3 linked regions of the Homo sapiens genome follow. The protein of the gene in region 1 interacts with the protein of each later gene in a biochemical or structural test. Each region holds a gene or a part of one and is shown in the gene's direction. Other genes may lie near its edges.

What was found. Proteins that work in one complex are often made in the same cells at the same time.
Region 2: of the proteins of RYR2 (region 1) and PRKACG, one has a biochemical effect on the other in vitro, tested with the Homo sapiens proteins (one study listed by BioGRID).
Region 3: the proteins of RYR2 (region 1) and CACNA1C form a complex in vitro, tested with the Homo sapiens proteins (one study listed by BioGRID).

Annotation. Positions count from the first base shown.
Region 1 is NC_000001.11:237,779,704-237,787,468, forward strand, and holds part of RYR2 (ryanodine receptor 2), read left to right. Parts: intron 1-1,861; coding exon 1,862-1,943; intron 1,944-3,971; coding exon 3,972-5,269; intron 5,270-6,265; coding exon 6,266-6,333; intron 6,334-7,765. UniProt on the Homo sapiens protein: Cytosolic calcium-activated calcium channel that mediates the release of Ca(2+) from the sarcoplasmic reticulum into the cytosol and thereby plays a key role in triggering cardiac muscle contraction. Aberrant channel activation can lead to cardiac arrhythmia.
Region 2 is NC_000009.12:69,011,645-69,019,419, reverse strand, and holds PRKACG (cAMP-dependent protein kinase catalytic subunit gamma), read left to right. Parts: upstream 1-5,306; 5' UTR 5,307-5,327; coding exon 5,328-6,383; 3' UTR 6,384-6,916; downstream 6,917-7,775. UniProt on the Homo sapiens protein: Phosphorylates a large number of substrates in the cytoplasm and the nucleus.
Region 3 is NC_000012.12:2,685,581-2,693,345, forward strand, and holds part of CACNA1C (voltage-dependent L-type calcium channel subunit alpha-1C), read left to right. Parts: intron 1-155; coding exon 156-262; intron 263-585; coding exon 586-689; intron 690-2,866; coding exon 2,867-3,199; intron 3,200-4,559; exon of another isoform or gene 4,560-4,630; intron 4,631-5,226; exon of another isoform or gene 5,227-5,319; coding exon 5,320-5,619; 3' UTR 5,620-7,765. UniProt on the Homo sapiens protein: Pore-forming, alpha-1C subunit of the voltage-gated calcium channel that gives rise to L-type calcium currents. Mediates influx of calcium ions into the cytoplasm, and thereby triggers calcium release from the sarcoplasm.

The DNA of each region.
Region 1 (7,765 bases):
TAATGTCAAAGATAAACAAAGCTGGATACTAGTTAAGCGAATAAGGACAGATTTTAATCAGTAGTGCTATTGCAACAAGGAAAAAGAGTTCAGCATGAACTGAACCTGATTTGATTTGTACAGAGGTGACTGGGAATATTAATGGGAGAATGAAGATTAGAGAAGGGGCGAGCAGGAGCTCAGTAGAGTCAGAGGAGTGAAAAGTTACAAAAGGTTCATTGGTGTAAATGTGATTAGACCAGCTATGTCTGCTAACTGGCAATTGTCAAAGTTAGTTAGTTAGGATTCTGTCCTCCAGAGTCCTTATCCTTAGATGTTGTCTGGAACTGTTGATTTTTTTATCAGCCTGGAGTTTTCCCAGGCAGGTACTTTAGTGGAGGGCTGGGATCATCCTTGACATGCAGTCTTGAACAGTTAGAAACTATATTTATTAGTGTTTGTTCAAGTCTTTATAGACCAAAGTTGAGGCCAAGTTGAGAAGAGGGCTCAGAGGTACCTGACTAGAGTTTGGTCAAGGAGAGAATGTCAGTATGGAGTTATTGGTGACTTCAGCCCAATAGGGAAATTCCAGTCTTTCATTTAATCACTAGGGATATTTTGGTAAGTAAAGGAAACCAACATATGAACCAAATGTAGACCCTCACAAGAGAGTTCTCATCCTGATGTTTTTCCATCAGGGTATTAACATCTGGTGCTACCTAGCACTTGTTCATGGTTTATAAAGTTTCCATAACAGCTATTTAGAAAGAAAACGTCTCATCTTCCCAACACTGTATAGCTTCATATGTACCAAAAATGCCTTGTACAAATTTTTTAAAGAATAGTTTAAAAAATGGATGAGATGTAAAGTTGTGCAGATGTAAGTATGATCCGTATTTCCAGGGACTATAGCTAAGCGTAGTGATGTTTAGACACAATATGTCTTTGAAAAAGAATGTTTCTTTATGGTAAAAAATCAAAAGCAAAAACAAAATTTTAACCAGAGTAATACTGGAAAGCTTAATCAAATTGGTAAATAAGATACATTGTGTAATATTTATTAGTACAATGTTGTACTAATAGGTAATACCTGTGTAGGTTTTTGGTTAATTTATCTAACAAATACATTTATAAGTTTATCTTCTATGGTGCTTATATGCCTATATTTCTTCTATATGAAGTTGATTTTTACATAATAGCACCTAGAAGAAGTTAGAAAGTTAGAAGAAAAAAATGCAGGCTTTTCAAATAAAAGATAAGATAGATGTCAAATGTGCAGAAGGTCTTGAGTCTTGCTTGGCATTGGAGAATATTCCACTGTTGTGGTTCTTTCATATTATTGCTATATATGTTCATTGTCGGTACAAATACTTTTTTTTTTTCTGAGACCCAGTCTTGCTCTGTCACCCGGGCTGGAGTGCAGTGGCGTGATCTCTGCTCACTGCAACCTCCGCCTCCCAGGCTCAAGCAATTCTTGTGCCTCAGCCTCCTGAGTAGCTGAGACTACAGGTGTGTACTACCCTGCCCAGATAAATTTTTGTATTTTTAGTAGAGACGGGTTTTTGCCATGTTGCCCAGCCTGGTCTCAAACTCCTGAGCTCAGGTGATCTGTGCGCCTCGGCCTCCCAAAGAAGTGCTAGGATTACAGGCATGAGCCACTGCGCCCGGCCTACAAATACTTTAAAGAACATGAGTTGAAATCAGTAATACTTTTTAATTGTAAAGTATAACTATTTTTAATATTTGGCCCTCCTTTAGTTCCATAATGCTTCAAGTGGTTACTATTTATTGCCAGAGCAGCATCCTTTTTGTGAGAATAAGTATGATGTTCCTGCTGCATAGTTTTCTTGTATTATCTCAAATGCAATGTTCATATTTTCAGGATTCCAGTCAAATTGAGCTATTAAAAGAATTAATGGATCTGCAGAAGGATATGGTGGTCATGTTGCTGTCCATGTTAGAAGGTAGTTTTGATTTATACTTTTAAATTCTCTTTATTATCTTATTTAAAGGATCAGCATGGGCTTATGGAATCAGAGTGTAGCATAGAATAAAATAGCACTCAGATATGATAGATGCCTTGGATTTCTTGCTGGCTTATTATTCTTTTTCTCACATTAGTTTTTTTTTAAAGGGAGATCCTGCATATCTCAGTTTACATATCTACAAAATGAAAATAGTAGTACTTTATAACAGTACTTTTCATTTCATAGTGATATCGTAAAAAGTAAGCTCTCCAGTCTATAAAGAATATTTTATTTGTTAGTGTGTTTGTCCATAATCAGTGGGGGTTTCGGACATTTGGGTAACAGTCAGCTGTGTAAGCTGCTGCTTTGAAAAGACCACAGAGTCACTCCTTTGGGTTCTTAAAGCCGTGGCACTGCTGGGAAAGCCTCTGTCCCCCAGGGCAGCTGGCAGTGGTAGTCTTGTTCTCCCCACCACAGCCTCAGTTTTAATTTTCTCTTTTTTTTTCTTCCCAGCTTATTTTGTTATTGCTTTTTTTTTTTTTTTTTTTCCTGTAGCAGGCAGGAAATGTAGCAGTTAAGAGCTTGGGCTCCAAATCCACCGCCAGAGTTTAAATCCTGGCTTCCTTACCTCTGGGAGGTATGACCCTTGGACAAGCTACATCTCCATTTTTTCAGTTTCCTCCTCTGCAAAATAGAAATGATAGATATTGATATGAGAATTCAGTGGAATCCTATAAATACAACCAAAACAACTAAGAAATGTTTGGTATTACGGTGCCTATCACTTTTTCTTAACTTCTTCCTATTTTCTCTCCGTGTCTGCCATACATGGCGTAACTCCACTTCAGTTAACTGAGGCAGCTGTCACGCCTCGTGCTAGGACTTTGAAGTGGCAGCATCTGCTTAAAGCCCTTAGTCGGTGGCAACAGTAGCCACTTTATACCCTTTAAACACAGGATCCATTTTTCCATGCATGGCCCCGATTCGAATTTTGGGTTAAATACTAACAAACAGCAACAATAATAACTGCAGTAGCAGCAACCACAGCAGTGACTTAAAACCAGCCTCATAACGTGCCAGATACTGAATTAAGTACTTATTTAATCCTAGTAACAAGTTTATCAGTTCAATGGTAATATTATCTCAAGTTTGCAAATGAGGAAACTGAGGTACAGAGAGGCTAAGAAATCTGCCCAGGTTGCTGAGCACATTAAGCCTGGATTCAAACCCAACAATGTGGCTCCAGATCCCACACTCTTAACACCACGGTGCTTACTGCTTCTCCGATTGACTCTGTGGACCTCTGACCAGCGACCTTTCTTCTCCTGCCTGTCTTTATGATATATAGCACGTTCTGTTCAATGAATAAAAGCATTCTGTGATCCTGTAGTTCAGGAATCTGCCATTTTCTAACAACTATACACACTGACTCATGAAGAAATGTAGAAAGGTGCTTTTCATTATGAATCAGAAAAAGCGTACAGTTTGCTCTCAGGATCTGGTCTGAAGACCTGGCACTAACCTTTAATAATTAAGTCACAATGGGCCCATTAATTTAGTCTTGTTGAACTTCAATTTCCTCATCGGTAAAATTAGGGTTAACAAAAAGTACCTGCCTTACATATGAACATTAAATCAGATATTGTCTATGATAGTGATTTTTCAACTCTAAAGGGCTGAGCAAATGTTTATTTTTATTATTAATATGAAACGATTTTAGTTTCTGGCTCTTTGGCTCATTTTCTTTATCTAAAACATGTTGCTTCTTTGATTGAGGGGAAAAATGTCAACTTTTGTTGAAATATTTTATGTGTGTCAGTCTAATTGCTCTGTAAATAGGGTTATGCATGTTTGTGTAATCATTTTTTAAACTATAGTTTATAAATAATTATCTTTTTATAGAGTGAGAGATAAACAGGGACATATCCTTGATTCAGATGTTATTAAAGATCTACATTGTTATCTTCTGTATGATCACTGATTTTGTTAGTTTATTTTAAACAAATGCAACTGCTTTACCACCAGGTAATGTTGTTAATGGAACGATTGGCAAACAGATGGTGGATATGCTTGTGGAATCTTCCAACAACGTGGAGATGATTCTCAAATTTTTTGACATGTTCTTAAAACTAAAGGATTTGACGTCGTCTGATACTTTTAAAGAATATGACCCCGATGGCAAGGGAGTCATTTCCAAGAGGGACTTCCACAAAGCGATGGAGAGCCATAAGCACTACACGCAGTCAGAAACGGAATTTCTTTTGTCTTGTGCGGAGACGGATGAGAATGAAACCCTCGACTACGAAGAGTTCGTCAAACGCTTCCACGAACCTGCGAAGGACATCGGCTTCAACGTCGCCGTCCTTCTGACAAACCTCTCTGAGCACATGCCCAACGATACCCGACTTCAGACTTTTCTGGAATTAGCAGAGAGCGTCCTGAATTATTTCCAGCCCTTTCTGGGCCGCATCGAAATCATGGGAAGCGCCAAACGCATCGAGAGGGTCTATTTTGAAATCAGTGAGTCCAGCCGAACCCAGTGGGAGAAGCCCCAGGTCAAGGAGTCCAAAAGACAGTTCATATTTGACGTGGTCAACGAAGGCGGAGAGAAAGAGAAGATGGAACTCTTTGTGAACTTCTGCGAGGACACCATCTTTGAAATGCAGCTGGCGGCTCAGATCTCGGAGTCGGACTTGAACGAGAGGTCAGCGAATAAGGAAGAAAGCGAGAAGGAGAGGCCGGAAGAGCAGGGGCCGAGGATGGCTTTCTTCTCCATTCTGACGGTCAGGTCGGCCCTGTTTGCGCTCAGGTACAATATCTTGACCCTTATGCGAATGCTCAGTCTGAAGAGCCTGAAGAAGCAGATGAAAAAAGTAAAAAAGATGACCGTGAAGGACATGGTCACGGCCTTCTTTTCATCCTACTGGAGTATTTTCATGACCCTCTTGCACTTCGTGGCCAGCGTTTTCAGAGGCTTTTTCCGCATCATTTGCAGCCTGCTGCTTGGGGGAAGCCTCGTCGAAGGTGCTAAAAAGATCAAAGTTGCAGAACTGTTAGCCAACATGCCAGACCCCACTCAGGATGAGGTTAGAGGAGATGGGGAGGAGGGAGAGAGGAAACCCCTGGAAGCCGCCCTGCCCTCCGAGGATCTGACCGACTTAAAGGAGCTGACAGAGGAAAGTGACCTTCTTTCGGACATCTTTGGCCTGGATCTGAAGAGAGAAGGAGGACAGTACAAACTGATTCCTCATAATCCAAATGCTGGGCTCAGTGACCTCATGAGCAACCCAGTCCCCATGCCTGAGGTGCAGGAAAAATTTCAGGTAATTTATCTCTAAGTCACAGCAGCATTCTCTCTGGACTTCAGGTGGGTATAATAAATGATCATTAGACCAGGTTTCATGCTAGTGCCAGAACGGTGTTACCTATGTGACTTGAATTTCCAAAGAGAAATGCTTTTTGGTAGACAAAGTTAGTGTTTTTAAGAGTCCTTATGAATTATTAAATTATCTTAAACTATTATGGTGTAAGCTTCAGTACCCACCCTAACTGTAGCCTACATCTTTCTCCACGTTTATATAATTTTATATGCACATTTGAAAAGTTGGGAAAAGAAAGAAAACTTTTAGATACCTGTAAGTGGCATTATTCTCACAGAGCATTGAAATTTTCTCCTCTGTTCTGTGATTTTCTTTGGCATGTTTTCATTGTATGTTCTTTGTAGTCATTAGTCCATAGAGCCATCATTCCATCCATGAATATGGCATATTTTCCAAGTGTCTGACAGACACCACTGGGTATCATAGGGAATTCAAAGGTAAGATGGGGTCACTGCCTTCAAATTACCTTAAAAAGTTTATTCCAGAGATAAAACTAACACACATGAAGAAACTAGAAAAGGGTTAACTGTGAAATAGTATAGGCAGGGCAGTAGGGGTTGCTTATGTTGAGAAAATGGCAATGCCGCTATGGTTTAAAGTAGTTAGATAAGAATGAAGAGGTAGGACTTAAACTGGCATTGAAGGATGAGTAAGATTTTAGTAGGTGCTTAAGATAAAGAAGGATATTTCTAAATGAGAAAAGAGAGTGAAAAGGAGTCCAGAAAGTTTGTCCCTGCTGCTGGTGCAGTAGGTCAGTGTGCAGAAGAAGCGGGAGATGTTTGGCCCTATAAAATGAAAAACACGTGGCGCTTTTATCGTGGTATAAGCAAGAGGGTATCTTATATAGGTTATGGTTTGACACATGGTCACATGGCTCCCTCAATTCATTCAAAGGTGATGGGTAATCCTGGTTTTCTTTTCCCCATTGACTCATTCAAGGAACAGAAGGCAAAAGAAGAAGAAAAGGAAGAAAAAGAAGAAACCAAATCTGAACCTGAAAAAGCCGAGTATGTATAGTTTGCATATACTTTTCCTTCGTTTCAGTTTGTCATTACATCTCTTTTTCTTGTACTCTGTCTTTGGGAGCTGCAAGGGAGAATCTCATATTGTCAAGGAGCCACAGAACTAATTGTGCCATCTCCGTGGAGAGGCTCTGACAGCGAGGACCTCAGGCCATGGGCAGGGATCACTGTAGACGCCCCCGGGGCTGCCAGTCTAGTCTTTTCCTCTCATTCCATGGGGACCTCCATTTGTGTGATTCCCTCTCAGCAGGAAAGACTCCAGTGATTGCATGGAATGCTGTTTGTAAGAGGACTCAGGGCCACAATTCTGTCTTTAAAAATCACTCATGTCTTTCTGTCCTTTCCAAGAAGGGAGGAAACAAACATTCCAAATGCGCTTTCATAGAATCCTGTGGAGTGGTGCTCCTTAAACCATAGACCCAGGACCACATGCATAAAAGTCCCCGGGAGAGTTGGTTAAAACAAACATTCCTGGGCCCCAAGCCATAGATCCTGCCTCAGCAGGTCTGGTGTGGGGCCTGGGAGCCTTCATTTTCACCAACACTCCTGGGATCAACGCAGCAATAAAAAAGAGCTGGATGTGAGGCGATGAAAATGCATAACTCCCTCATAACACCAGGTTTCTCTGAATAATCGAAGCCTACATCTTTCTCCACGTTTATAGAATTTTATACGCACATTTGAAAAGTTGGGGGAAGAAAGAAAGGAAGCTTTTAGGTGCCTGTAGTGCCACTATTCTCCCATAGCATTGAAATTTTCTCCTCTATTCTGTTATTTTCTTTGGTCTGTTTTCATCGTTATGTTTTTGTAGTCAGCACTATTCATTGTCATAGATCTCACACTATTGGGTCAGTTGTAAAAATGGCCCCATAAAAAGTAGACACAAATAACAGCAAGACAGGCATTTCAATGGCAATTCTTTAACTAATATATACCTCATATGAGTTAAGATTAAGTATAGCTTATATATATTAATATTTCTGGTTTATGTATTAATACATATGACTTCACTTTAATTTAATGAAGGACTGATATTTTGCACCTAAAGGATATCAAATGTCAATTCTTCTAATTCCATTATTGTTGGAATTAATATATCATTACTATAATTCACTTTATTTTATTTAATAAAATTAATTACAATTAATATATGTCAGAGTATAATGATACACTTTATACATGTGAACAATTAAGTGTGTAGGCCTCTGATTTTAAATCTTAATGGAAAATGTTAAAAATTGTGCATTAAAATTATAGGCTGGGCGTGGTGGCTCACACCTGTAATCCCAGCACTTTGGGAGGCCGAGGCGGGCGGATCATAAGGTCAGGAGTTCAAGACCAGCCTGGCCAACATGGCGAAACCCCATCTCTACTAAAAATGTAAAAAAAAGTTAGCTGGGCATGGTGTCACATGCCT
Region 2 (7,775 bases), on another chromosome or scaffold:
GGCTGGTCTCGAACTCCTGACCTCAAGTGAGCTCCCTGCCTCGGCCTCCCAAAGTGTTGGGAATACAGGCGTGAGCCACCATGCCCAACCCAGTATTCTTTTTTTTTTAATGTCTCAGGTGATTTCAATGTGCAGTTAAAATTAAGAACCACTGCTTTTGATGTGCATCGGTTTGTGAGCTCTGATTATAGGGCATATTTTGGCAGAAGGATGTTGTGAATGTTCTGCTCCACCTAGGGCCTTCTGTTAATTGGCAGGTGTGCTGTATCACACATGTTAAGTGCTGCAGATGAGATTTCAGAGGAAATCATCAAGCGCTCTCCTGTTCTGTTTCTCTTGAGGGCCTCAACTCTTCATCATGAAATGTAGGCTGTTACAGTGATAGCAGAAGAGGTCACCAAGAAACTCATATGCCATTATACTTTACATGAGTGCCGAAGCTCCTGTCGCAGTCCATATTATCTGTATCTAACATCTTGTCCTGGGTACAGTTTCCCATTCAGCCACTCGGCTGTACTGTCTGTATGTTGCATGATAATTACTAGGCATTATACATGTGCAGTCACATTGCAACCATGTGACAATGCCCACTTCTTGTGTAGGTGTGCACAAGAAATTCTCTTCAAGGTCTCAGAAGGACTGAGTACGGCAGGCCTCACAAGACACAGCCATGGTGGGCAAATAGCAGTGCCTGACATTCCTACCCCCATCCTCAGATAGTGGAGTTTCCCACAATCCCCCTCCTTGACTCTGTTCTCTCTCGGCTCACGTTCCTTGGCTAACACTCTCATACCACTTAAATCTGTGCTGCCAGTGCTTATCTGTCTACTAAGTTCAATCCCAGATTTCCATTGGCTAATTAGACATCTCTACCTGAATGTCTTAAGGACCTATGAACTCAATGTGTTCAATCCTGAATTCATTATTGTCTTCAATAAATTTGTTTCTTTCTTTCTCTTCCCCACCCCCGCCTTGTCCCATTTGCTTTGCTTAAAAAAAAAGCTTTGCTTCCTTTATGTGGAAAGACACATAAAGGAAGAACTGAAAAACCAGGGCTCAGGACAGAAGGCAAGGAACTTATTGGCCAACAGCTGTAGAAACATGGACAGCCTTCTAAGATGCTGTATTTGGATGGCTCCTTTACAAATGCCTCAAATCCCCCTGTGTCTCTGCTCAAGATTCAATTCCTGAGAGACATAAACTGATCGATCTATCTTGGGTCCTGTGGCCATCCCTGACTTTGACTCAGGTGAGTGGGTTAGATTGGGAACCCAACAGAATCAGATGAAATGAGGTAGAAGTAATCCCTCAAAGATAAAACAGAGTGCTATTGCCAGGAAACGAAGGAGAACTACAAAATATGGGGAAAATAATTTTATAAAAATTGTCTCCCTTTTGTGGATTTAAACAGTATATAAAAGTGACATATAAAATATAAGTAAATGCATTTGTGAGAAACCAATGTTTTACCTCATTTTTATTTTAATAAGTAAAGTAATTCATGCTCAAAATTAATTTTAGCAATTCAGAAGCTTATAAAGTGAGAAGTAAAAATTTTCCTTCCTTTAATTTATGCTTCTCTAAGTTCCTAGTGCTATTCCCTAGGGGTAATCACTTTTGGCAGTTCTTATATGTCAGAAGATATATTTTTAGGTAAGCAAGTTGGGCCTATTTCTAGGACTACTTTCTTTTCAGGTCCCAAAAACATTACAATGCTCATTATCATGTGTGTCAAGCCACTTCTATAAATATTATGGTGGCCGGGCACGGTGGCTCACGCCTGTAATCCTAGCACTTTGGGAGGCCGAGGCAGGCAGATCACCTGAGGCCGCGAGTTCGAGACCAGCCTGGCCAACATGGAGAAACCCCGTCTCTACTAAAAATACAAAATTAGCTGGGCATGGTGGCACATGCCTGTAATCCCAGCTACTCGGGAGGCTGAGGCAGGAGAATTGCTTGAACCCGGGAGGTGGAGGTTGCGGTGAGCCGAGATCGTGCCATTGCATTCTAGCCCGGGCAACAAGAGCAAAACTCGGTCTCAAAAAAAAAGAAAAAAAAAATTGTGGCAAAATTAGTGGTACCAAGGGATGAATGATTGCCCAAACTTTAAATAAATGTAGTACTTTATAAATTATTGTCATTAAGTTATTTCTGAACTTCCTGACTCCCATAATTTTTCATCTTTCATATAACAAAGGCCACGCCAATTTTTAAATCAGCATTTTATAGATCATAAATCTGACATAGAAACTTTGTGTTCAAAAATGTTCTTTTACAATATTCTGCTAATAAGGAGAAAACAAACTATTAATAGAAGCTGGCTTGTCAAAATCCAGGTATGATAAGTATTTCTGGACCAGAACATGCAGTGTTATGTAAATAATTCCCTGAGTGATAGAGATTTGTAGTTTATTTCTTATTTGAATCCTGGTGGAGTTTGTTCTTTTCTTTGCTCCCATCAATATTTTGGAGATAGAGAGGAAGTTAGAATTGAATGATCCAAGCCTTATGCAATTAGCCATTTGGAAACTGCTATATAAACAGTAAAGAGGAGAATCAGCTGGCATGACTGCCAGTGAGCAGTTTTTTGGGAGAAGAATGGTCTTGATTGCCTTTCATTGGGCATACAGGAAAGCAGAGTTGGCTTTCACCTCTTCATTTGGCCCCCTAGGCAAGCTCCAAGCAGATCATGCAGAGGTATTGTATCTTGCTACACAAATCTTTTCCTTCTGAAAGGGTTTATCTGAATGCAAAAGGATTCCTGTTTCCTTGGCATGCTAAGGACTCCCTTGCTCCCCAAGGCCATGGAGAAAAGCAGAACGGAAAGTGGAGAGAAATAACAAATGTAATTATTCTGCAGCTTGTTCTGGGATAAATACTTGATGTTCTGACCTGTAAACGAAGCATGGGGACATTTCTAGTGTGCAGCATATGTTCCCTCTAGACCCCTGTGTCTTCCTAATTGAACTTCAGAGATTAATGCCACAAGAATTTGTCATGGAATGGCACAGCCTGCTTCTAAACAAACTGTCCCACTTCCAAGGCGTCGGTCCAAGAGAATGGCTTCCCACTAATTGCTCTTTGTGTATAAATTTCTACTGAATAATCTGGAGGTAAGTCAGAAATGGGCAGAATTTTAGCAGATCTACTGTGATGAAAATGAAGAGGAAATCACTGAGATTATGGGGGAGACGTGGAATTTCCATCTGCCAGGGATTTGCCTTGACCCAAAGCACAAGGGGCAATTGACCCCCCTGCTATGTTCTTGAGGGAATGTGGGTTTCCCTTTTGTGGAAGTTCAGATGATCAACAGTAGATTTTTCTCCTTTCCTCTTCTTCCTCTCTAACCTGACCGTCTCTGAATATACAGTCAGTACCCAAGTACTGGCCCCAGATTAAACCGTAAACTCGGAACCAGGCCTTGCACACAATAGACACCTGCTTGACCAACATCTGCTGAACTGAGCGGCAAGAATTCACAGTCACAATAGAAACCTTCTACTTGGAGTCAAGTAATCAGGGATTCCTCTCCAATTTGCTTGGTTTCAGCCTGCAGGGCTAGGTGAAAGTGTGTTGTTTACTTGCACTAGCTACAGGCGGTGTAGCCAGGGTGGGTAGGCAGAATTAGCTGTCAAACTTAAAGGGCAAGATGGAGAGAAAATAGGAGGATAAATGGGTATTCCTGTAGCTCAGTGTTTATGATGTAGGACAGAATCTTTGTACAGAATTGACTGGGGAGAGCAGCTCAGAACCCACCCTGTGATGGCTGAGTGCTGGCAGTCTTCTGGAGGGTGTGTGGGGCGGCTGACATGGTGGCCTGGGGGAGTGATGGAAGGCCCATCATCTATGTACTTTGACTTCTCATAAACTCCTGTGGCATGTTTTTAATAATTGATAGAATAAGTAAACAGAAAGTCAATAAGAATATAGAAGACCTGAACACTACTACTAGCCAACTTGACCTAAGTGACATTTGTAGAACACTGTATCCTCAAACAGCAGAATACACCAGAATATACATTCTTCTCAAGTGCATATGGGCCATCTACCAAGATAGATCATATTCTGGGCCATAAAATGAGCCCCAAGAAGTGTAAAACATTTTAGGTCACACAGAGTATGTTTTCTAACAATGGAATTAAATCAGAAATCAATAGGAAAATTCTTGAAAAATCCCCAAGTATTTGGAAACGAAATAATATACTTTTAAATAGCTTATCTGTCAAAGAAGATGAAAAGGGAGCTTAGAAAATATTTTGAGCTGGATGAAAAGGAAAATACAACATACCAAAATTTGTGGGATGCTGCAAAAAATAATACTTAGGAGGAAATTTATAGCACTAAGTGATTGTAATAGAAGAAAGATTTCAAATCAGTGACCTTAGTTCCCACCTTAGGAAATAAGAGCAATTAAACCCAAAGCAAACAGAAGAAAGGAAATCATATGTATGTGTTAAAATAAAACATTACATGCAGTAAAACTGAATTTTGGGGGGAAGTATACAGTTCTTTGAGGTGTTTGTTTGTTTGTTTGTTTGTTTTTGAGATGGAGTTTCACTCTTATTGCCCAGGCTGGTGTGCAGTGGCACGATCTCTGCTCACTGCAACCTCTGCCTCCCAGGTTCAAGCAATTCTCCTGCCTCAGCCTCCCGAGTAGCTGGGATTACAGGCATGCGCCACCACGCCTGGCTAATTTTTTTGTATTTTTAGTAGAGACGGGGTTTCACTATGGTGGTCAGGCTGGTTTCGAACTCCTGACCTTGTGATCCGCCCGCCTCGGCCTCCCAAAGTGTTGGGATTACAGGCTTTAGCCACTGCGCCCGGCCAGTTCTATGAGTTTTAAAACAAATGTAGACCACCACCCAATACATTGTAACCACCAGCACAATCAGGATACAAACATGTCCCACCACTTCCCACATTCCCTCAGGCTGTCCCTTCATAGTCCAACCGTCCCCTAACCCCAAGCCCTGGCAATCACTGATCTGTTCTCTCACACTATAGTTTTGCCTTTTCTGGAATGTCATAGAAATGGATTCATACAGTAAGTCTCCTTTAGAGTTGGCTTCTCTCACTTGCATAATGCCTTTTGGATTTATCCATATTGTTGAGTGCAGCGGCGTGATCTTGGCTCACTGAAGCCTTGACCTCCCAGGCTCAAGAAATCCTCCCATCTCAGCCTCCCATGTAGCTGGGAATATAAGCGGAGGCCGGGCGGGGGTCGCAGCGCCGCAGCCAGCGCAGCCAGCCCCAGGGGGCGCCATCTCCGCCGCTGCCGCCGCCGCCGCCGCCGCCGCGAGACCCCCGCCCCTGCCGCCGCCACCGCCATGGGCAACGCCCCCGCCAAGAAGGACACCGAGCAGGAGGAGAGCGTGAACGAGTTCCTAGCCAAAGCCAGAGGAGATTTCCTCTACAGATGGGGAAACCCCGCTCAAAACACCGCCAGCTCGGATCAGTTCGAACGGCTCAGGACGCTGGGCATGGGCTCCTTCGGGCGGGTGATGCTGGTGAGGCACCAGGAGACCGGCGGCCACTACGCCATGAAGATCCTCAACAAGCAGAAGGTGGTGAAGATGAAGCAGGTCGAGCACATACTGAACGAGAAGCGCATCCTGCAGGCGATCGACTTTCCGTTCCTCGTCAAGCTCCAGTTCTCCTTTAAGGACAACTCCTACCTGTACCTGGTGATGGAGTACGTGCCGGGTGGGGAGATGTTCTCCCGCCTACAGCGCGTCGGAAGGTTTAGCGAGCCCCATGCCTGTTTCTATGCCGCCCAGGTCGTCCTGGCCGTCCAGTACCTACACTCGCTCGACCTCATCCACCGCGACCTGAAGCCCGAGAATCTCCTCATCGACCAGCAGGGCTACCTGCAGGTGACGGACTTCGGTTTCGCCAAGCGCGTGAAGGGCCGCACTTGGACCTTGTGCGGGACCCCAGAGTACCTGGCCCCCGAGATCATCCTGAGCAAAGGCTACAACAAGGCCGTGGACTGGTGGGCCCTAGGGGTGCTCATCTATGAGATGGCCGTGGGCTTCCCACCCTTCTACGCCGACCAGCCCATCCAGATCTACGAGAAGATCGTCTCTGGGAGGGTGCGGTTTCCCTCCAAACTCAGCTCTGACCTCAAGCATCTGCTGCGGAGCCTGCTGCAGGTGGACCTCACCAAGCGCTTCGGAAACCTCAGGAACGGGGTTGGCGACATCAAGAACCACAAGTGGTTCGCCACAACCAGCTGGATCGCCATCTATGAGAAGAAGGTGGAAGCTCCCTTCATCCCGAAGTACACAGGCCCTGGGGATGCCAGTAACTTTGACGACTACGAGGAGGAAGAGCTCCGGATCTCCATCAATGAGAAGTGTGCCAAGGAGTTTTCTGAGTTTTAGGGGTGTGCTTGTGCCCCTGTGGGTTTTCTTTCCTTTTTGTTTTTGGTGGTTTGGGGGATGGGAGGGTTGGATTGAACAGCCAGAGGGCCCCAGAGTTCCTTGTATCTAATTTCATCCTCACCCCACCCTCCAGGGTTGGGGGAGCAGGAAGCCCAGATATTTGGAGGAACAGAAACACCAGCTGCTCCCTCACCCCCCCCCATGCCTTCCTGGTCCCTCTGTGCTTCTCTCTTTCTCCTCCCACAGGGTCCCCCTTGCCCCAGCCCCCTTCTGCCTGTTTTAAACGAGTTTCTCAGCTCTATTCAGGCCAGGTCTTGCTGTTGTATCAAGGGACACGGTGTGGAAAGAGGGGCTCAAACTTAACTCCAGCCCTGAACAGGCACCACTTACTAAGAGAGGATGAATGAAAAGCACACCTACCCTTTGGCGTAATCCTGCCTGGGAAGGAGAGAGGTTTAGTGCCATGTTCAGTGGGCTGTTTGCTAGAATAAAAAATTAAAACAAAAAACAATTAAAATCTTATTTAAGTTCCACCAGTGTCCCCTTTCCTCCTTCCTCTACTTCCACCCCTCCCACCCTTCCCACCTTACCGTGTCTCCCCATTCCATTTTAACAAATCCAGGAAGCCGACTGACTTTGGAAGGAGGCTCTGGGGTTTGAACTTCCCCCATGAACTGCTGATTTCCCCCTCCCCCCTCCCCAGGGGCATCCTCTATCACTCTTGCAAAGGTCTCAGTTCTTTTAGGAAGCTCCACTCTCTTCTTCCCCAGCAGACTTTTCTTCACCCTTGGGCTTTGGGAGCCAGAAAAGCAGCTGCCCTACTCCCTGCCAAAGAGGAGTTGTCCCCCAAAAAGACAGAGTGGGAGTTCCAAGCCCAAGTCTTTCTTCACAGCAGCATTTCCCCGAAACTCCTTAATTTTATTCTCAGCCAGATTGTGATGCCCAGCCTCTCCTTATGGGAAGGCAGTCCTGCAAAAGGACATGGAAGAGGCCCAGCCCCTCCACCCCCACCTCATCGCCCAGGGTTCAAGGCTAGGGTTGCTGGGGAGGGGCTGCCTGTTTTATTCACCCAGCAGCTTCTGCCTTCTCCCATCCTGGGTGCCCCTCTCCAGCTTAGCTGTCAGCCATCCTTCACCTCTTCTCCCCTGCCACCCCGTGCTGTTTTCAATTTTTTTTTTTTTTTGACATGAAGTCTCACTCTGTCACCCAGGCTGGAGTGCAGTGGTACAATCTCAGCTCACTGCAACCTCCGCCTCCCGGGTTCAAGCGACTCTCCTGCCTCAGCCTCCCGAGTAGCTGGGATTACAGGGGCCCACTACCATCCCCGGCTAATTATTGTATTTTTAGTAGAGACGAGGTTTTGCCACATTGGCCAGGCTGGCCTTGAACTCC
Region 3 (7,765 bases), on another chromosome or scaffold:
TCTTGGGGTGGCAATTCCCCAAACCTGCATGTAAGCACAAAGTGTGCGTCCCTTCACTAAGGATCAGAGCAAAGTGCTTTCCGGGGGTGCAGCTGTCCCTGTGGGTGGCCACTTCTCAGCCTCCAGGAACAAGCCCCATGAGCTCTCTGTTCCAGGCTCTCCTACCAGGATGACGAAAATCGGCAACTGACGCTCCCAGAGGAGGACAAGAGGGACATCCGGCAATCTCCGAAGAGGGGTTTCCTCCGCTCTGCCTCACTAGGTAAATGCACCGCTCGCTCTCTGGATGTGGTCGGCGGTTACTCCCTAGAGAACACTGGTCAGGGATGATTGGGAAATCGTTGTGGCCTGCCTCAAATCAGCCCCACACAGTGGGGCATTTCCAAAGCAAGGAGACAACATTCCAAAGGCAGGGTGTGCAGGGATGAGCCCTGGACACCAGAATACGTCTCAGACGAGGGGAGGGGAAAGGAGGAGCGTCTCGGGCCATAGTTACTGCTCCTGGCACCCCACCAGGGTGTAAACTGTCACAGGCCAGTGCCCTGTTTTCCTGCCCTGATGGTGGCTCTCTGGCTGGCTTTGCAGGTCGAAGGGCCTCCTTCCACCTGGAATGTCTGAAGCGACAGAAGGACCGAGGGGGAGACATCTCTCAGAAGACAGTCCTGCCCTTGCATCTGGTTCATCATCAGGTAGCTCACACTTTTGGACAGGCCACTGTCACCTGCCAGCAGGCCAGACAGTCCCCAGGGTGACGGACAAATCCTGAAGACTTCAGTGGGTCTTGCCTGTCTCAGATGGCTGGCACGTCCTGCCCCTGCCCTAAGAGCCATCCCTGTAGGGCTTCACACTCCTGTGCAGGTGAGGGCCACGGCAAGGTCTGCAGCATCGCAGGTGGGGGCCTAGGAAGTGCTGGTGCACAGGAGCTCTTTGTGTGATCCTGAGGACCCACAGCTGCAGGTTCCACCTGAGCTTTCTTCTTAGGCTGCCACAGATGCCACTGACGCCTCTGACACTGGCCTATGCCTCAGGGCACTCAGGAAGATGTACTTGTACCTAGAGTTTGAATATACCTGGAAATTTTGCCACACAAAAATCCATCCAGTGACATAAAGAAGTGATTAAAGAACCCACCAGCAACATGGTCAAGAGTAGGGAATGACATCCGTGGGAAGCAGGTCCAGGGAGATTCCATAAATGAAATGTCTCTTGGCATGGCTGACTCCAGCTGAGACAGTGAAATCCAAGATGCCAGGACCAAACATGCCTTAGTATCTTTGAACTTCAGTGTTATCTAAGGCCAGTCTATTAACCCCAGGCAAACTGAGGTCTAAACCTGGGTTTCCCAACATTCTGACCTTATTAAAGTTATACTCTTTTATAGCATGGACCTATGTTTTAAATAGACCTATGCTTTGTACCCAAAGGCATTCAACTGCCAATCAAAAGTCATAATCAGCATGAGATGGCCAGTGTGGCCTGGCTGAGTTGATAGTACTTCAGCTCCAAAAAATAAACAGGTTTTCTTAGCCTGTGTGGTGTTGTCTTCCACTGGGCTTTCTGAAATAATGAATATGGCCTTACACTTTTCTCAGATTCCCAGGGACCCAGGAGCCCCAGGCTGAGGACCACCATGGGCAGGGGCAGGAGGTGGAAGGATGTGGGGACACTGTGTGTGCTATCTTAAAAGATTTCTAGAAGTCGATTTCACCTATCTGTTCTTGTCGTACTGGTAGGCACGAAACTCTCCTCTTCATCTCTTTCTCCTCCTGTACTCTGTGACCCTAGAGGTGGTCTTTCCCCACCACAGTGTCGCTCTCTCCCGGGAGCACATCCCATCAGAGCAGCTCACCCTGCAGAGCCTCTGCCCTGGCAGGTTGTCATGGCAACAGCCAGACAGGCCTGGTCCCTACCCTCAGGATGCTCAAGAATATTCAGGGACAGAGGGCGTACCGTGTGACTTTTTTTTTTTTTTTTTTGAGACAGAGTTTTGCTCTTGTTGCCCAGGCTGGAGTGCAATGGCACGATCTCGGCTCACCACAACCTCCACCTCCCGGGTTCAAGTGATTCTCCTGCCTCAGCCTCCCAAGTAGCTGGGATTACAGGCATGCACCACCATGCCTGGCTAATTTTGCATTTGTAGTAGAGACTGGGTTACTCCGTGTTGGTCAGGCTGGTCTTGAACTCCCGACCTCAGGTGATCTGCCCGCCTTGGCCTCCCAAAGTCCTGGGATTACAGGCATGAGCCACTGCTCCCAGCCCTGAATCTTTTAATCACAATACAGCACCGGATTTAACAATGGCTCAAAGACAACCTGAGCTAGAGACTGGCAGGGCATTATGAATGGCCCCATTAACTGTGAGAACTAAAACCACAAATACTGGTTTTCCCAACTCTTTGTGAGGTGCACAGCGCTTCTTCACAGACCTCATTGCGCTTGAGCCTCACACCAGCCCCACAGGGCAGATGGATAGACAGCATTCGTTTTCTGGCTTTACAGACATGCAGGCCTCACCCTGCTCTCCATTCTATTGAGGACAAAACCAAGAGCGAGAGAATGCACAGCTGACAGGTGACCAGGCCAGGGCTAAAAGCAGGTTACCACGACTTCACCCAATCCCAGCTTTCAGAAGTTACAGGAGAAAGAGATCACTTCAGACCCAGATGATCCTAAGATGTATTTTGAGATAGTTGAAAGTCATGCCAGGTTGAGATAGGACCGACAGGGGAAAATAATGGCATGGGAATACCAGGCAGGTGGAGCTAGCTGGACACAGCAGCTGCAAAGCAGTGCTTGCTCAGAAGCAGGGGCCTGCCTTGTTTGGGGTCGGCCACTCCTATTAACTCACACTCCTTGTGTGTCCGCAGGCATTGGCAGTGGCAGGCCTGAGCCCCCTCCTCCAGAGAAGCCATTCCCCTGCCTCATTCCCTAGGCCTTTTGCCACCCCACCAGCCACACCTGGCAGCCGAGGCTGGCCCCCACAGCCCGTCCCCACCCTGCGGCTTGAGGGGGTCGAGTCCAGTGAGAAACTCAACAGCAGCTTCCCATCCATCCACTGCGGCTCCTGGGCTGAGACCACCCCCGGTGGCGGGGGCAGCAGCGCCGCCCGGAGAGTCCGGCCCGTCTCCCTCATGGTGCCCAGCCAGGCTGGGGCCCCAGGGAGGCAGTTCCACGGCAGTGCCAGCAGCCTGGTGGAAGCGGTAGGTGACTCGCAGATGGGCAGGGGGGAGAGGCCACGGGCAACAAGGGGACTTGGCATGCGGGGCTGAGAAGGGAGCACCTGGCTCTTGCCAAATTCATTGCAGTCAATATCTGAGCCCGAAAGACCCTCCCTCTCAGGGCTGCAGGAGGGCTCGTGTGCGGAAAGCCATGACTGCACAAGATGCTATGGGCTCTCTTGAGGCTGGGCCCACTGCAGAGGGCGGCAGAAACCACTGAGCAACTTATCCCTTATACTGCAGCTGCTCGACATGCAAATGTGAGCCTGGCTGCCTTTATACACAGACAGGCAAGATCCAAGGTGCTCAGGCCTGACTGCCCGTGAGCATCACCTGGGGAGCTTTGGAAACCCGGGACAGATTAACTGATGATTGTTAAAGCTCTTCGATGATTTTAACGTGTAGCAAGGTTGAGAGCCACTAGCCTAGAACAAGCGAGCTTTCAGTCCCACTGTGCTCTGCCTGGTCAGAGCATCTAGTGCAATCCCGGCACCACATTATTAGGGACCTTTGACACACTGGAACAAACCCAACAGAGGATGACCAGGATGGCAAGGTTCCTAGAAACCATTTCCTAGGAGAACCGTTTCAGGGAATTCGGGAAGAAAACCTGGAGAGGAGGTGACTTTGGAGGGTGCGATACACCTCTCACACCTGCAACGGGTGGGATGGGGAAAGGGTGGCAGGCTCAGCCCACCAGCGGACAGATTTCAGCTCACATGGGGAAGACCTTCCCAAATGAGCTCTTCCAAGATGAGAGGGGCTTGCCTGAAAGGTAGTGAGCCCCCCATCATCAGACATAGCCAAGCAGAGACTGTGCTCATCCGGGCGTCAGGCTGTGGTGCAGGAGGTGGGGCGTTAAACCAGGTGGCTTCCAAGGTTTACCTCTCAAAGTCTGGTATTCCTGTGGCCTCGATCATCCTGCATTCATTTCACAGACCTTCCCTGAGCGCCTACCATGTGCAGGCCCTGTTCTAGGTACAGGGACACAGCTGAGAAACAGAGCTTCTGCTCTCATGAGCTCACATCATGGTGAGGAGAGACAGATAATAAACACATACATATATAACACATCAGGAAGGTCAGGAGTGCCAAAGAAAAACTAAGCAGGGCAAGGAGAGAATGAGTGGCGTGGGCAAGGAGCAAGACAAACAGATGCCTGAAAGGAGCGAGTGCCAGGCTGCACTCAGCTTCCCCCGACCCGCTGGCTCAGGAGCCGATTTTCCCATAGCCAGGCACTAAGCAGCCGGTAGGGAGGACAGAGAAGCTTAAGGGTCACCTGCTGGCCCTTCCCAGCAGAAGCAAGGCAGGGGCATGCGCCGTGTTTGCACAGATACCTCACCCCTGGAAAGGCAGCAGCAGGCAATGGGCAGTGGGCCTGTCTCAGCAGTTTCACCAGGGAGAATGGTTTCTCTGAAAGAATAGTATAAAGGTTCAGTGGGTGTCAGAAAGGAGAGAGGCAGGCTGGGATCTGCTGATACAGCATCAGGGCAACCCCCCGGCCCCTCTGAGAGCCAAACCTTCTCTGGTTTTTGTTTTGGTTGTTTTTTGAGACAGGGTCTCGCTCTGTCACCCAGGCTGGAGTGTAGTGGTACAATCACAGCTCAGTGCAGCCTGGCGCTGCTGGGGTCAAATGATCCTCCCACCTCAGTCTCTGGCCTTGCTAAGATCACAGGTGTGCATCACCACACCCAGCTAATTATTCTTAAATTTTTTGTAGAGACGAAGTTTCCCTGTGTTGCCTGGGCCTGGTCTCGAACTCCTGGGCTCAAGCAGTCCTTCTGCCTGGGCTTCCCAAAGTGCTGGGTGACAGGTGTGAGCCACCGTGCTGGGCCATAAGCAAGTCTTCATATATTTGATGACAGTGTTTGACCACCCCAGCCAAAACTTCTCTGGCCTGCACATCCCTAATTCTGGCAGATGCTCCATCTCCACTTGTTCCCCATGGGTGCCCCTCCCAACACACACACGTACACGTGCACACACGCACACTTCCCCAAGTGACCTACCAGATACCCCCTCGCTCTAGCCCTCAAGGGAAGAGCTGGGCTCCAGGAGTAATGTTCCTTTGGTTCTTCATGGCTCCCACCCCGCTCCTTCAGGTCTTGATTTCAGAAGGACTGGGGCAGTTTGCTCAAGATCCCAAGTTCATCGAGGTCACCACCCAGGAGCTGGCCGACGCCTGCGACATGACCATAGAGGAGATGGAGAGCGCGGCCGACAACATCCTCAGCGGGGGCGCCCCACAGAGCCCCAATGGCGCCCTCTTACCCTTTGTGAACTGCAGGGACGCGGGGCAGGACCGAGCCGGGGGCGAAGAGGACGCGGGCTGTGTGCGCGCGCGGGGTCGACCGAGTGAGGAGGAGCTCCAGGACAGCAGGGTCTACGTCAGCAGCCTGTAGTGGGCGCTGCCAGATGCGGGCTTTTTTTTATTTGTTTCAATGTTCCTAATGGGTTCGTTTCAGAAGTGCCTCACTGTTCTCGTGACCTGGAGTTAACCGGAACAGCGTCTTCATTCATTTCTGTTGGGACCAGACGCGGAGCCTGGGTGCGCGAGCCGCCCTCCGGGAGGAAGGCGCCCGGCTGCGTCTGCAGAGGCGGGGAGAGGAGGCGGCGAGGGTCCCGGGGCGCGAGGAAGGCGCCTGCCCTCTCCCAGCTCGCAGGCCCCGGGCCCGGCCGCGCCTCCGCGGGGAGAGCACCCCGGCTTCCCGCGCGCCCTCACCAAAAGGACCCTACAGCAAACGGGTGTCTTTCGACTCTGCTTGTAGAAACCATTTGCACATATTCTGTACGAGCCTCGCTGTCTCCCTAGAGCCAGGGCCCTGCGGATTTGGAGAAGGGAGCGGGGCAGGACTTCCAGGAGGACCCCAACCCGGCCCGGAGAGGGAGGAGGAGGCCTCCAGGGGCGCGGAGCTCTGGGGATGGGCGTCGGGCCGGCAGTGGTGCGGCTCACTCCGTCCCTGCCCACCTGCGACGGGATCCCCCGACCGGCACGGGCCACGCCGAGCTCCCGGCCAGCCGCCGGCCCGCAGGCAGCGCGAGGGAGGAGCTGCGCCGCCGGCTCCGCCCAACCAGGTGGTGCTGAGCTTCCGCTGAGCGCTCTTTTGTTTTGTGGTTTGACACTTTTCTTGACAGCATGTTGCAGTTTCTTTTCGGTTTTGGTTTTTTTTAAATGTTTTATTTTGCTTTCCCAGCGGGAGGGGAGGAAGAAGAGTGTTTACAAAGTCCTGTAGCCCCCTCACCTTTCTGTTTTCACTTTTGCCAATGTACATCGGGTTTGGTTTTCTTGTATTATTTAAACGGTTGTGGTTTCCTTTTTCCACGGAGGTTCAATAGAAGCCGCTGCAGGAGAGTTTTACCAACCATTGTGTATGCCCAATAATTTGTTATCATTTCCTTAGGTAGTAACCTATTTTTGTTCTGGTTTGGTTCGGTTATCTAATGGAAAGGTAACTGGCAATGCACTTGATGTGGTCTTGCACATGTGGGTGATAGAGTTGGGTTCCTTTTTATGCTGGGTGTACAGGTGGGTTTGGGAGAGAGGAGCATGCGCGAGAGAGTCTCCGAGTGTGTGCGACGCGTGTGTGTGTGGTGGGTTGTCTGTGTGCATATGTCCTGCCCGTGTATATGCACCCACACCATGTGCCCGTGCACACCAGTGACTACGCAGTCCCCCCTTTCTGGTTTAGCTGTGGGAAGATCTGAATCTGGGGCCGTTTGAAAGCAAAAACAAACCACTGTCTCTGCTTCTGAAACGGGAATCAGTAACTCTTTGCATTTTCTGTCCCACAAGATATGCAAAAACAATGCAATAATATTCATTTAAAAATACAATTGTGAGTTGTGTTGGCATTAAAACTGTATTTTAAAAAAAGACAGAAATTTAAGGGAAAAACACAAGAAGGCATTTTGCTTCAATATATTCCGTGTAATGTTTTATTGCATTGATAATGTTTCTGTTGAAGAAACCGTTATACTTGAATTCAGGTCAGTTTCAGTATTTTTCAAATATTTTTTTAAAACTGAATTGCAATTGTGCCAAGCGAATATAATGAATTGAATTAAGTTGGTTTTCGGATTCACTTCTTGTATATTTTGCTGCATGTAAAGTAAATCATTTTGTATTTGGAGTGTGACAAGCTTTACCTTTGAACTCAAGTGCTTTTCTATATGTGGTTGGGGGAAAGGGAACAAGTTTTCTTTAGTTTGCACAATGAGCAAAGGTATCACCAGTGTAGTCATTATTCTGCTCTCCACAAACAGGTTTGGACATTACTGTTTTGCATATCTTGTGTTTGCTTACATTTCCCTCAATTTTTCCAAAATCGTTTGCTGGGTATGTTTGTACCGCCTCTTGCTGTGAGAGACCAGGACCTATTTTATTCCAGTCTTCACTCTGTCCACTCTGCTCTGGTCATCTGATTTGGTACTTCTCCAAGAACAGCCCTTCACTGTGAGGTGCAGGGAGGCGTTCTGATGAGCCCTCAGTCACTGGGCCGTCATCCGCATCCCCCATGGAAGAGGTAGCTGGCTTTCCCTTCCCTTCCA